Linked DNA regions of Homo sapiens. The protein of the gene in region 2 interacts with the protein of the main gene of each other region in a biochemical or structural test. Each region holds a gene or a part of one and is shown on either strand. Other genes may lie near its edges.

Region 1 (7,026 bases), on a different chromosome or scaffold from region 2:
GACAACGTTTGTGTTCAGGGAGCTTCTGTGTGCAAAGCCCAGGGCTTGGTGCTGAGGCCAACAGAGACGCAGGAGTCTCTCCCGGGCGGCCCAGCTGGCTGCTGGGTGCTGAGTCCTGGACGCCCCTGCTGAAGGGCACAGGGCAGCTGTTTGATTCAGGATTGGGATAGGGTTGGAGGTGGTGGCCTGACACTTCCCAAGCCCTGGGGTTTTACTGGAGCCACCCACCTGGCCTCTAGATTGGCCGGAAACTGGCTTCCACTGGAGGCAGGACTGTAGGGGTAGGGGCGTGGGGCAGGAAGAGGTCAAAGGTGAAGTGATGGCCGACTCCCACTCTGGAGTTCCTGGTGGTCAGACTTTTGGACTCCAGGTCAGGCAGCAGGCGTGGATGTCAGCTTGGGGCGACCCCAGGGTGATGGGTGTGTGACCCCCCTCCATTCCTTACTTTCCTAATCTGCCATGATGCTGTGGGCTGTGGCGAAGACCAGCCAGGTTGGTTCCTGTGGGGTGCTTGGGCACTGGGGGCAGGTGCTGGGTGGCCAGTTCCAGCAGGAAGGGGTGGGTAGCTGGGGCGTCTGTCCCCCAGGCCCAGGTGGCCCAGGGTGACTGGGTGAGGCCTGTGGGGCAGGTGGGCCCTGGGCTGCTGTGTCAGGGCCGCGGCTGTGGACCGATCCTGTGTTCTGTTTGCACTGGAGTTCTTGTCTGGGATGAGAACTTTGTTTCTTGAAACTTGTCTGATGAATTCAGATAACCTTGATGGGGAGCCAGCAGTGTCAGCGAAGAGCAGAGCCTGTATCTCTGGTTGGGACATCTCACACCCCTTCAGGCTTCTTTTTATAGGCCCTGTGCTCTTGCCCCGCGCTCTTGTGGGTGTCAGAAAGCCGTAGATTTTTCTGAAAATTCAGTGTGTTCACAAGGGTGTGATTCCCGCTCTGAGTTTCAGGAAACACCAGCTGGGCCCTGTGGTGGTCCCTCCCCTCCACGCAGGGTGAGACCAGCTCTTGCTCAGTGCAGGAGGTGAGGGGGGACCTCGGGTCCCTATCAGCAGGGAAGTGCCAGCCTTCAAAGGGTGCCTGGGAGTCCGTGAGCTTCCCCAGCCCCTGGAGTTCAGGTCCTGTCTGGGGCTGAAAAGATAAAACACACTGACTCTGTGTGACTCGGTTTTAAAAAAAAAAAAATCTGCCGGGGCTTCTGCCGTGGCTGCAGCAACGGACCCAGTGCCCACTCCGGGGTCTAAAGAGTGGCCTTTCATTATGGAATTATTTAATCCCCGCCACTTCACCGCTGGCACCGTCGAGGTCTGGGGGCAGGTCTGACTGGTTTCCTTTACCTTAGTGAAGCCGGCGGCCTGCACCGACCCGGCTCGCGCCCATCCCGGGGTCACCCACATTTGGGTGAACTTGAACGAGTGCCCGACCAGGTAACGTTGCCGGACCTCCCACAAGAGGGCACTTTCTTTTCTCCCATTTTGTCCTCATTCTTTCCAGCCAGGTAGGTCGCGCTTTTTTCTCTGTGCAAGGAAGTTGATGGTGGTCATTTTTTTTTTTTTTTTTTTAATACGGAGTCTCTCTCTGTCGCCCAGGCTGGACTGCAGTGGCGCGATCTCGGCTCGCTGCAAGCTCCGCCTCCCGGGTTCACGCCATTCTCTTGCCTCAGCCTCCCGAGTAGCTGGGACTACAGGCGCCCGCCACCGCGCCTGGCTAATTTTTTGTATTTTTAGTAGAGACGGGGTTTCACCGTGTTAGCCAGGATGGTCTCGATCTCCTGACCTCGTGATCCACCCGCCTCGGCCTCCCAAAGTGCTGGGATGACAGGTGTCAGGCACTGTGCTTGGCAATGGTGGCCATTTTTTAAACTATGGTTATGGTTAATGGTTCTATTTTGTGTGTGGGAGGGGGGAGGGGGTGGGGCTGTCATATTGTCTTTGGGGAAAGTTTCATTTATCTAATCAATGATTTGGTTAGTTGGTAATCATTTTTTAATTTGATTCAAATATGCCCCACGGTAACAGATGCCCATGTCCCCTCTGCCCCAGGGACATCTTCATCACCAGCGTGGACGCCGCCACGACCTTCGAGGAGCTCTGTGAGGAAGTGAGAGACATGTGTCGTCTGCACCAGCAGCACCCGCTCACCCTCAAGTGGGTGGACAGCGAAGGTAGCCCTTGTCCCATGTTGGCCAGAATCCTCAGCCTCAGGGGACTTCGCCAGGGCAGCCTCTGTGTGCGGAGTGTGCTCAGCCAATTCTGTGGGGAGACTTAAAGCTGTGGAATTAAACTTGTTGGCGCCAACTTTTCCCCAGTGGGGATGGTGGGAAAGAGGTTGGCCACAGATGCTTATCAAGGACCTGGGCCCAGATGCCCCTAGGAAGGGCTCTGGTCTTGAACTGCCTGCAGGGGGTCTCCCTGCCCCACCCTGGGCAGGTCCTCACCTCTTCCTCTGACCTCCTTTCTCATGTCCTGGCCTTTTTCGGTAGGTGCTTCTGAAAGGATGGGCTCTTCATATTCTAGGGACCACGGGGAGGGCACAAGCAGCCAGGGCCTGCCGTGTCCACCTCCTGTCTCTTAGACACATCCTGAAAAACAAGGGGATTGGGAGACGTCCAGAGAGACCCCTTTCTCCCAGGGACTGGCGGGCAGCTCTTGGCCAAGGACACGGCCGTGCGGGTGGAGCCTGATAGCGCCCCCGTTGGGTTGGGTACAGCCCTGCAGGGCCTGGGTTCTGTACACCTCCATGTCCCTTTCCAGCCATAGAGGGCAAGGAGCTCTCCCTCCGCCCAGGACTGACCTCCGGAGAGTGTCCTCAGCCCCGCTCACTGCTTAGCCCTCCAAGTGGTGCCCAGGGCTGCAGGTGTACTGACTTCCCTTCCGGGGTGGCTCTGACGCTGCACCGGGGGCCAGGTGACTCCCTAGTGTGGACGGCCGTCCTTGGACCTCCCGACCCTGCCAGGAGGTGGCCAGTCTGAGCATCGGGACTTTGCCCCCCACCAGACCCTTGTCTGGTGTGCTGAGCGGGCTCGTCACAGCCCCCTTTGCCTCGGGCCTTCGGCGACGTCAGCACCGTCTCCTGCCCCACCCAGGTGACCCTTGCACGGTGTCCTCCCAGATGGAGCTGGAAGAGGCTTTCCGCCTGGCCCGTCAGTGCAGGGATGAAGGCCTCATCATTCATGGTTAGTGGCGGGGTCTGTGGTGGGCAGCTCTGGGGGGCTGTTCCTGGCTGTGGGTGTCTGCCGACTAGCTGGGGGATTTAAAATGGTTTAAAATCCTATGATGCCAGAGAATTTAGGGATGTCTAATATAATGCCATTTGGGTTTTTTTCTTTGACTTTTTTTTTTTTTTTTTGAGACGGAGTCTTGCTCTGTTGCCCAGGCTGGAGTGCAGTGGCACAATCTCAGCTCACTGCAAGCTCCGCCTCCTGGGTTCATGCCATTCTCCTGCCTCAGCCTCCCGAGTAGCTGGGACTACAGGCGCCCGCCACCACGCCCGGCTAATTTTTTGTATTTTTTGTAGAGACGGGGTTTCACCGTGTTAGCCAGGATGGTCTCAGTCTCCTGACCTCGTGATCTGCCTGCCTCAGCCTCCCAAAGTGCTGGGATTACAGATGTGAGCCACCGCGCCCGGCCTTTTCTTTGACATTTTATTAACCCAAATGAAAACTGCTCTTAACAAAGAACCCGTAAACCACTCAGAGGCTCCAGTGGCCAGCGTAGGGCCCGCGGCGCATGTGGACAGAGGGGACAGCCCCACCAGCCACCTCACCTGCCCGGTGCTCCCTAGGCCCGGCTCCAGGCTCACAGCTGTCCTCAGCTTTAAGTTCAAAGCCCCATGATGAGCTGACGCATGGGAGATGTGATTGTGATCATTTCCACTTTGTCTTTAGGTGGGCGTGGGCTCCTCCCCGGTACTGCTGGGGGTCTGCAGGGCGTCTGGGGCCTGGGAATGTGGTTCCAGCGCTGTGGCCAGCCGGTCACGTCTTTGTCTCTGTGTCCACTTCTGGCGTAGCTTGGGCTCCTTGCCAGGCGTCTGGCCATGGACGATTGAGTCCAAGATGGGACCAAAGCTCGAAACCACCCATGGATTTCTGACAGATCCATCATTCTCCTGGACACCGGGCTACCTGGTTACAACACTTAATTTTCTTCGCCCTTTATATCAATGAGGCTCTAAATTTAAAGACTAGGCCGGGTGCGGTGGCTCACAACTGTAATCCCAGCACTTTGGGAGGTCAAGGTGGGAGGATCGCTTCAGCCTAGGAGTTCAAGACCAACCTGGGCAACATAGTGAGACCCCCCCCTCTCCAAAACTTGTTTTATTTTTTTGAGACAGAGTCTGGCTCTGTCCCCAGGCTGGAGTGCAGTGGCACTATCTCTGTTCACTGCAACCTCCACCTCCCAGATATAAGCGATTGTCCTGCCTCAGCCTCCCGAGTAGCTGGGACTACAGGCATGTGCCACCACACTTGGCTAATTTTTTTTTTTTTTTAGTTGGAGTCTCGCTCTGTCGCCCAGGCTGGAGTGCAGTGACGCGATCTCAGCTCAATGCAACCTCCGCCTCCCGGGTTCAAGCAATTCTTCTGCCTCACCCTCCCAAGTAGCTGGGACTACAGGCATGTGTCATCACGCCTGGCTAATGTTTTGTATTTTTAGTAGAGACGGAGTTTCACCATGTTAGCCAAGATGGTCTCGATCTCCTGACCTCGTGATCCACCCGCCTCAGCCTCCCAAAGTGCTGGGATTACAGGCGTGAGCCACGGTGCCCGGCCTAATTTTTGTATTTTTAGTAGAGATGGGGTCTCGCCATGTTGGCCAGGCTGTTCTCAAACTCCTGACCTTAGGTGATCTGCCTGCCTCAGCTTCCTGAAGTGTTGGGATTACAGGCGTGAGCCACGGTGCCCGGCCCCAATTTTTTTTTTTTTTTTTTTTTTTGATATTCAGACGTGGTGGTGCACCTGTAGTCCCAGTTACTCGGGAGGCTGAGGTGGGAGGATTCCTTGAGCACAGGAGGTAGAGGCTACAGTGAACTGTGATTATTCCACTGCACTCTAGCCTGAGTGATGGGGCGAAACCCTGTGTCAGATAAATAAATTCATAGATGTGCCTAATCTAGTCCTTTTTATTGTGGTTGTGATAGTAAGCACATTTTGCCTCTCTATGTGGAAAGATACAGTGGCTTAAAAATTCACATTGTTTTCTAGATAAAAGAAAAATAGGGCTGGGTTCAGTGGCACACACTTGTAATCCCAGCACTTTGGGAGGCCGAGGCAGGTGGATCACTTGAGGTCAGGAGTTCAAGACCAGCCTGACCAACATGGTGAAACCCCATCTCTACTATAAATACAAAAATTAGCCGGGCGTGGTGGTGTACACTTGTAATCCCAGCTACTTGGGAGGCTGAGGCAGGAGAACTGCTGGAACCCGAGAGGTGGAGGTTGCAGTGAGCTGAGATTGTGCCACTGAGCTCCAGCCTGGGCACAGAGTGAGACTCCATCTGAAAAAAACCAACAAAAAACAAAAAATGTTTGTTTTTTTAAAGTTTCAATACTTTTATGTGTATACACACACACATAAAAAAGTAGAGATGGGGTTTCGTCATGTTGGCCAGGCTGGTCTTGAACTCCTGGCCTGAAGCCATCCTCTCATCTCGGCCTCCCAAAGTGCTGGGATTGCAGGCGTGAGCCATCATGTCCAGCCAAGTTTTAATACTTTCTAAGCACCTATTTTAATAATTTATTGTGGAAGCCCAGGATATATGTTAAAATAATTTTGAACTCTGTCTTGAGTATGAAGAAGTGGAATCTAAAGTGCTTTTAAAAGTCAGTGTTCAAAGTAATTGCATTTCTTTCCCATTTTTATATAGTTTAAAAATACAAATCAGTAGCTTCCTCTGATGGCTTTGCTGTCCAGGTCCCTCTGATTGCCTTTTACTCTAAGTTTTTCCGTGGGTTTTAAAGTCGGAGCCTGGCCTACGTAGACGCACGGGGTTTTGCGTCTCCCAGGAGCGGGCTCTCATTGGCAGTGCCACGTGCGCCTTGCGTGAAGTCCACGTGCTCAGCCTGACTGAGGCGGGACTTCCTCCGTGAGACTGTTGAGTGGCAGCCGCAGGGTCTTGACGCTGTCTCTTTCTCTCTCTTGTCCAGTTTTCCCGAGCACCCCTGAGCAGCCTGGCCTGCCATGTCCGGGAGAAGACAGTGAGTACTGGGGTTTCCTACGCCGGTCTCGCATGTTACGGGGTTGAACTGTTGATCCGTTGTGCCACGGAGGTGGCAGTGGTGCCGTTTTCGGAGGTTCACCCTCGTGGAGCGTCAGGGCAGGAGCAGCCGTGGTGACCGCAGGTGGGGTTTTCACTGCAGCTGCTGCCTGTGCGTGTTCTGGCTGACAGCACCACATGGCGGGGGACTCGCTTGGCTGGTTGGTAGCATGAGAAGTCCAGGGGTGCCCTGCCGTCTCCCTAGGAGGGAGGGGCCAGGTGGGAGGCTGGACACTGCTCCTTTGTGGCTGCCTCAGCTCACGACCACCCCTAGGCCAGTCGTCTGCTCCTCCTGGTCCCTGCTGGCCCCTGAGCTGGTGTGGGGGCTCCGTTCATCCCACACTGGCTCCATTGTTGGGAGAGGAAGGAGAGTGAGTCCCGGGGGCTGTGGCTTCAGAGGGAAGCTTCTGACCTCACTTCCTACTGCATCCCGGAGACTGTTGGGCCCTGAGCAGGTGGCTACGCTGCTCTCGGGCCGCGCATCCCATGGCTGTGCTTGGTGGGGTTCCACCCCCACTCTCCAGACCCCACACGGCCTCCAGCATCCGTGCCATGCCTTGTTCGTTGTGTGGGCAGGAGCTCCTGGACCGAGGCCGCTGCCTGTCCAGCGCAGGGCACGTGGCTCAGTGCCCTTCAGGCAGGGCTTCCCCCACCCCTGCTGCCAGGGCACACACCTCGCTGGCCTCAGGCTGGATGCTGGGTGTTGGCAGTGCCCTGTGTTGGGCGGGAACTGGGGGTGGGAGCAGATTCAGGCCAAGAGGGTGAGTGGGCAGTTGGGGCG
Region 2 (7,026 bases):
CCACACCTGGCTAATTTTTGTATTTTTAGTAGAGATGGGGTTTTGCTATGTTGGGCAGGCTGGTCTCCAACTCCTGGCCTCAAGTGGTCTACCCAATTCAGCCTCCCAAAGTGCTGGGATTACAGGCATGAGCCACCACACTCGGCCCAAATGTCTGTTTTTATGAAAGCAAGATGTTGCAAATTCCAGCTTAAAATTGTTTTAATAGATTAGTATGCCATATTAATTTAAATGAATAAATTTTCTAAGGTAGTGCTTATGATGGTTCAATTCACTGTTACAAGCCTTGGGGTAAAGTGATAACCAGCAACCTGTGCTTTTGTAAGCAGCCATGGAGAACTCTTTATCACTTAGGCTCTGTCATGTCAGCCCTGGCCAACAGCTTAGAAGACTCTATGCAAGGTTTCAAGCCTTGACATGCAAGCTTCTAGTTGCCCTTTGGGGAAGCAGTGGGAATATTTACCAGCCACTTCTAAGAAACTACTGGAAAGGCAAGGCAAATTTCAGGAGCTTAATGCACTGTTAATATGTCTAGGAAAAAAAGGTGCAAACTTAAAACTTCTGATAAACAAATATAATTCCAGTGATTAAAAAGGAATGAGGCTGGGCATGGTGGCTCACATCTGTAATCCCAGCACTTTGGGAGGCTGAGATGGGCAAATTGCTTGAGCCCAGGAGTTTGAGACCAGCCTGGATAACACAGTGAGACTCTGTCTCTACCAAAATAATAAAAAAAATTAGGCCAGGTGCGATGGCTCACACCTGTAATCCCAGCACTTTGGGAGGCTGAGATGGGTGGATCATGAGGTCAGGAGCTCGAGACCAGCCTGCCCAACGTGGCGAAACCCCGTCTCTACTAAAAATACAAAAATTAGCCGGATGTGGTGGCGGGTGCCTGTAATCCCAGCTACTTGAGAGGCTGAGACAGGAGAATTGCTTGAAGTCGGGAAGTAGAGGTTGCTGTGAGCTGAGATGGCGCCATTGCACTCCAGCCTGGGCAACAAGAGCAAAACTCCGTCTCAAAAAATAAATAAAAATCAAAATAAAGGCCGGGCACAGTGGCTCATGCCTATAATCCCAGCACTTTGGGAGGCTGAGGTGGGCGGATCACCTGAGGTCAGGAGTTCAAGACCAGCCTGACCAACATGGAGAAACCCTGTCTCTACTAAAAATACAAAATTAGCCAGGCATGATGGCGCATGCCTGTAATCCCAGCTACTCGGGAGGCTGAGGCAGGAGAATCACTTGAACCCAGGAGGTGGAGGTTGCAGTAAGCCACGATCGTGCCATTGCACTCCAGCCTGGGCAACAAGAGCAAAACTCCGTCTCAAAAAAAATAATAATTAAAAAAAAAGAAAAAGAAAAAATTAGTCGAGTGTGGTGGTGGTGTGTGTCTGTGGTCCTACTTGGGAGGTGGGAGGATCACTTAAGCCTACAGTAAGCTCTAATTGTGCCACTGCACTCCAGCCTGGGTGACATAATGAGACCCTGTCTCAAAAAACAAACAAACAAACAAAACTAACAATGAGACAAAAGCTTTGCTGTCTCCCCTTTCTGAATCCCCCCTCTAAGCAACCCTCCTCATTTATGGCCCTCCGTGCTTTTAGGTTTTCCCCCATACCCTTCCTATCTTCCTCTAGCTCTAATTCCCAACTCTACCTCCCAACCAAACACAGGCAAAAGTGAAAGCATGTTTTCATCCACACTGTCTACTTATAAAAGAATTAAGCAGATAAAACTGGTTTGTGTATGGGAGGAGTGGAGGACGTATATAAACAAAACACTGCTTTATATAGATACACTGGATTACCCAGAGTCAATTTAATAAATTCAATGGATGATTTTTAGCAGGGTTATCTGTATTTTAGACCATTTTGCTAATTGTGGAATAAAAAAGCTAGAGATGGTACAATAATTGTTGGCATCATTCACAGTGAGAAGAGATATTTGGGAACAGGAAGTCTTTTGTGGTGTTCTCAAAATCACATCACGTAGGCAGCTGCTCCTACACACGGCTCTGAACAAGTCGTCTCACTGGATTTTGCATGACAGTATTAGTTATCATAAGGACAGGTAAGGTTTAAAATGCTTTATGTCCCTAAGATTTTACTACCTTTGACTACTTTTTAAAAATTTTTAAACTTTTTAAAAAAACTTTTGACTACTTATTTAAAGACTGATAGAATTACTCTATGAATCCACATGAGTTTCCATCTAACTTCCCAGTAGGATGACATTAGGCCAGATGTTAAAGCATGAAACAGGAGTACTGAAAGATTCTTAGAATGTGTTTGCATTTGAACGCAGGTCTATTATAAGGACAGAGCTACAGGTCAAGGAAGCTTGCTTATTCTTTCTCCTAGGCCTAGGGCAGAAGTTGTTGAAGAGTGACCTCATCCCCAACCAACAGCATCATCTGGGAACATTTAAGTGCAAATTCTTAAGTACCAACCCCAAACTCACTGAATGAAAAACGCTGGAGATGGGGCCCAGCAATCTATGTTTTAAAACAAGTCCTCCAGGTGATTTTGATACAGTAGAACTATTGGCCTAGGAGATTCAAACAGGCTGCCGGGCCACTATTTGACAACAAAATGGTTTTTAAGTTATTATCTGGAAACTCTTGAACTCCAGATTTTTAAAGTGTAGTGATAGCAAAATATACCCAGTTTGTGGTTTACTTAGGGTCTGAGAAACAGAAGACAAAAGCACAGTTTTGTTACTTCAACTCATTTCAAAGCACCTGTGTCAAACCAATGAAGGACAGCTTACACAATATTCGCTAAAATTTTTGGAGTAATGTGGCCCAGAACCTATGCTAAGTGTGCTTATAATCTTTATCCAATTTAGTATTCACAACCACTTTCTCCATTTATAGAAGTGTATACCAAGACAGAGAATGTTAAGTAACTTGCCCCAAATCCCACAGCTAGTAAGAACCAGAATCAGAACTGAAACCCATATCTGACTCAGAGCCTGAGCTCTTAGCATTTGTTTACACCAATGTCTCAAAGATCTTTAAACAATTTTGGTCAATTTTTAGACCATGGCCACTACTTATCTTCCAGATTAAACGTTGGCAAGAGCTTTACTGACCTGTAACCTTCACGAATGGCTATACTGCCTATTCTGTCTCGACACTTGCTGTACATACAGTTTGAGTATCTCTTTTCTGAAATGCTTGGGACCAGAAGTGTTTCTGATTTTAGATTTTTTTCAGATTTTGGAATATTTGCATTATACTTAACAAGCTGACATCCCAAATCCGAAAAGCCAAAATCCAAAATGCTCCAATGAGTATTTCTGTTGAGTGTCATGTCGGTGCTCAAAAAGTTTAGAATTTTGGAGCATTTCAGATTTTCGGATTTGAAATGCTCAACTTATAGTAAAATCATTGTCATTTAAAAGAGACTTGTCTTTCATGTTAAAATGCTGGGTAATTTACATAAAGAATGAAATTATTCTCTATTTTAAAACAAAACTTCTATCATGCAACAATTTCTAGCGTTGTTCATTCTACCGTAACTTAGTATTTCTGTTTAGTTTTTGTTTTTTGTTTTTTTTTTTTGAGATGGAGTCTTGCTTTGTCACCTAGGCTGCAGTGCAGTGGTGCAATCTTGACTCACTGCAACCTCTGCCTCCTGGGTTCAAGCGATTCTCGTGCCTCAGCCTCCTGAATAACTGGGATTACAAGCACCCGCCACCACAGCCGGCTAATTTTTGTATTTTTAGTAGAGACAGGGTTTCATCATGTTGGCCAGGCTGGTCTCCAACTCCTGACCTCAAGTGATCTGCCCACCTCAACCTCCCAAAGTGCTAGGATTACAGGCGTGAGCCACCGTGCCTGGCCTATTTTTGTTTTATTTTTGAGACGGAGTCTTACTGTCGTCCAGGCTGGAGTGCAGTGGTGCAATCTTGGCTCACTGCAACCTCTGCCTCCGAGTTCAAGCGATTCTCCTGAGTCAGTCTCCCAAGTAGCTGGGATCACAGGCATGCGCCACCACACCTGGCTAACTTTTGCATTTTTAGTAGAGACAGGGTTTCACCATGTTGGCCAGACTGGTCTTGAACTCTTGACCTCAGGTGATCTGCCTACCTCGGCCTCCCAAAGTGCTGGGATTACAGGTGTGAGCCACCATGCCCGGCCAGTATTTCTTTTTTCTTTTTTTTTTGGCCAGAGTCTTGCTCTGTCACCCAGGATGGAGTCAGTGGCACAAATCTCAGCTCACTGCAACCTCTACCTCCTGGGTTCAAGCGATTCTTCTGCCTCAGCCTCCCGAGTAGCTGGGACTACAGGCATGCACCACCACGCCCAGCTAATTTTTTTGTATTTTTAGTAGAGACGGGGTTTCACCATATTGGCCAGGCTGGTCTTGAACTCCTGACCTCGTGATCCGCCTGCCTCGGCCTCCTAAAGTGCTGGGATTACAGGTGTGAACCACCGTGCCTGGCCGGTATTTCTGTTTTTATAATAGTTGAAAGTATACTCCAACTCAGTTTTGTTTTTTTGTTTTGTTCTGTTTTTGGAGACAAGGTCTCACTCTGTCACCCAGGCTGGAGTGTAATGGCACGATGACTCACTGTAGCCTCCAACACCTACGCTCAAGTGTTCTGCTCGCCTCAGCCTCCCAAGGCATGTAGAATGTAGCTAGGACTACATGCATGTGCCACCATGCCTGGCTAATTTTTTCTTTAACTTTGTAAAGATGAGGTCTTGCCATGTAACCCAGGTTAGTTTCCAACTTGTGGTCTCAAGTGATCTTCCTGCCCTGGCCAAAGTGCTGGGATTATAGGGGTGAGCCATCAGGCCCAGCCAACTTCTTTCATTTGTAGTAGTCTCTATGCAAATACATTTTTAATACCATACTCATATATGTTAGCCAACAAATACATTTAAGAACCCTGAAAATACTTCCAATAATTAAAAGTTTCAAATAAAGTTTAGCAACCACTATCACCAGACCATTTTTACCTTCCTTTAATGATCTTTGGTTTCAGCCAATCATTTTGTTCAGTGAGTTGCAACTCCTGGGGTTACATCAAGAGTGTGAACTATTTGAATAAAAGGAGCTGAAAGTAGGCTAGTTTAGGCACTTCCAAGTACTTGTTAAAAATGTAGTAGAAACCGCTTGGCTGAGCAAACCCAGAAAGAGCCCAGCTAACTGAGAATACTCATCATGAAATACATATTTGCTGGACTCACTGTGTCCTTGACAGCCATGAAGCAGTGACAGATCCAGCGACGAGTGGTGCCATCACGGCATATGTAAGAAAAGGCTCTATCAAAGTTCCTGTCTGGGGCACAGAAAGAAACTTTCTCTATCGTCTGGTCAACTATGAGGTCCTAGAAAATACGACACACAAAGAAAGAGAAGACTTATGAGGTTATCTGAGCTTCTCAGAACACAGGATGTTCATTTCATGATGCACAATCCATACATCTGATACAACTAGGCTATGGAATACCTAGATCTGTGTCCAGCAGTTTAAATACTGAGAATTGGACTCAGCAGACATCCCAAGAGGCACTTTGCCCAGATACCTCTCTCAACTACATGTTCTAAAGCATATGCTTGTTGATTCTAGTTTTACATCTCTTTCATGGTAGATTCCACATTCAACAATATATGTAAATCAGTATCTTTAATCCTTTGGATAAAAAAAAAATCCTTTGGGTTTATTCCCAAATATAAGCAAATACATATAATAGTCATGTTTATGCTAACTTCGTTACACAATGAACACTACACACACATACACACAGTTCTGCACCTTGCTTTTTTACATTATATATACCCGATCCAGTGAAGTTACTTCAGATACTGTATTTTTCAGGTGTGGAATTTCCACTCGTTTCTTTTTCTTTTTTTTTTTTTTTTTTTGGACAGTCTCACTCTGTCACCCAGGCTGGAGTGCAGTGGCGCGATCTTGGCTCACTGCAACCTCTGCCTCCCGGGTTCAAGCAATTCTCCTGCCTCAGCCTCCCAAGCAGCTGGGACTACAGGCGTGTGCCACCACGCCCGGCTAATTTTTTTGTATTTTTAGTAGAGACAGGTTTCACTGTGTTAGCCAGGACGGTCTCAATCTCCTGACCTCATGATCCACCTGCCTTGGCCTCCCAAAGTGCTGGGATTACAGGCACGAGCCACCGTGCCCAGCCATTTGTTTCTTTTTCATAGTTTCTATTCTCTGCCAAGATTTCTATCTCTTCATTCAACATGAACATATTTCCTTTCTGTCACTGAGTATAGTTATAATGCCTTCTATACACTGTTTTCATTTCTGTTAAGGTAGCAGTCTACTTCAGTGTACCATTTTCTGTACTAGTTGTGGTGATGCTATAAACACAAAACAATACAATGACTCAAATACAAGAGACATTTATTTCTTGGTCAAATAGTGAAGGCGGGCATTTAAAATCTGTCTGCTAATTCCAACATCTGAGTCATCTTGAAGTTAGGTCTTTATTGATTGTTATTTTGATGAGAATAAGTCAGACTTGTCTGTTTTGTTGTATGCTGAGTAACTGCATTGTAGTCATTGTGAATGTTGTATGTGGAAAGAATGGATTCCGTTACATTCCTTGGAAGTGTCATATTTTTGGTTTTATCAGGTAGCTAATTTGATTATACTCAAATGGAAAACTCTTATCTTTTGAACAGCACCTCAGACATCAGGGCGTTTTTGTTCTTTTTTTGAGACTGTCTTGCTCCGTCATCCAGGCTGGAGTGCAGTGGCGCAATCACTGCTCACTGTAACCTCAACTCCAGGGCTCAAGCATCCTCCCGCCTCAGCCTCCCGAGGAGCTAGGACTACAGGTGCATGTCACCATACGTAGGTAATCAAATATCAGTTTTTATATCCTTAGTTGGGCTATTTGGAGTCTGCCTTGAATCTACATGGCTAAAAGGGTCAGAGATTTGGGCAGAATTTATGAACAGAATTTGGGACTACTCCTTTTTGGCTTACTCATTTCCAGGATTCTCTTTTTACTTTCTTTTTTTGAGATAGTCTTGCTCTGTCGCC

What was found.
Region 1: the proteins of NUMB (region 2) and PRKCZ form a complex in vitro, tested with the Homo sapiens proteins (one study listed by BioGRID and IntAct).

The regions. Positions count from the first base shown.
Region 1 is NC_000001.11:2,053,406-2,060,431, forward strand, and holds part of PRKCZ (protein kinase C zeta type), read left to right. Parts: intron 1-2,035; coding exon 2,036-2,157; intron 2,158-3,078; coding exon 3,079-3,168; intron 3,169-6,135; coding exon 6,136-6,186; intron 6,187-7,026. UniProt on the Homo sapiens protein: Calcium- and diacylglycerol-independent serine/threonine-protein kinase that functions in phosphatidylinositol 3-kinase (PI3K) pathway and mitogen-activated protein (MAP) kinase cascade, and is involved in NF-kappa-B activation, mitogenic signaling, cell proliferation, cell polarity, inflammatory response and maintenance of long-term potentiation (LTP).
Region 2 is NC_000014.9:73,287,531-73,294,556, forward strand, and holds part of NUMB (protein numb homolog), read right to left. Parts: intron 5,345-7,026; coding exon 5,204-5,344; intron 1-5,203. UniProt on the Homo sapiens protein: Regulates clathrin-mediated receptor endocytosis. Plays a role in the process of neurogenesis.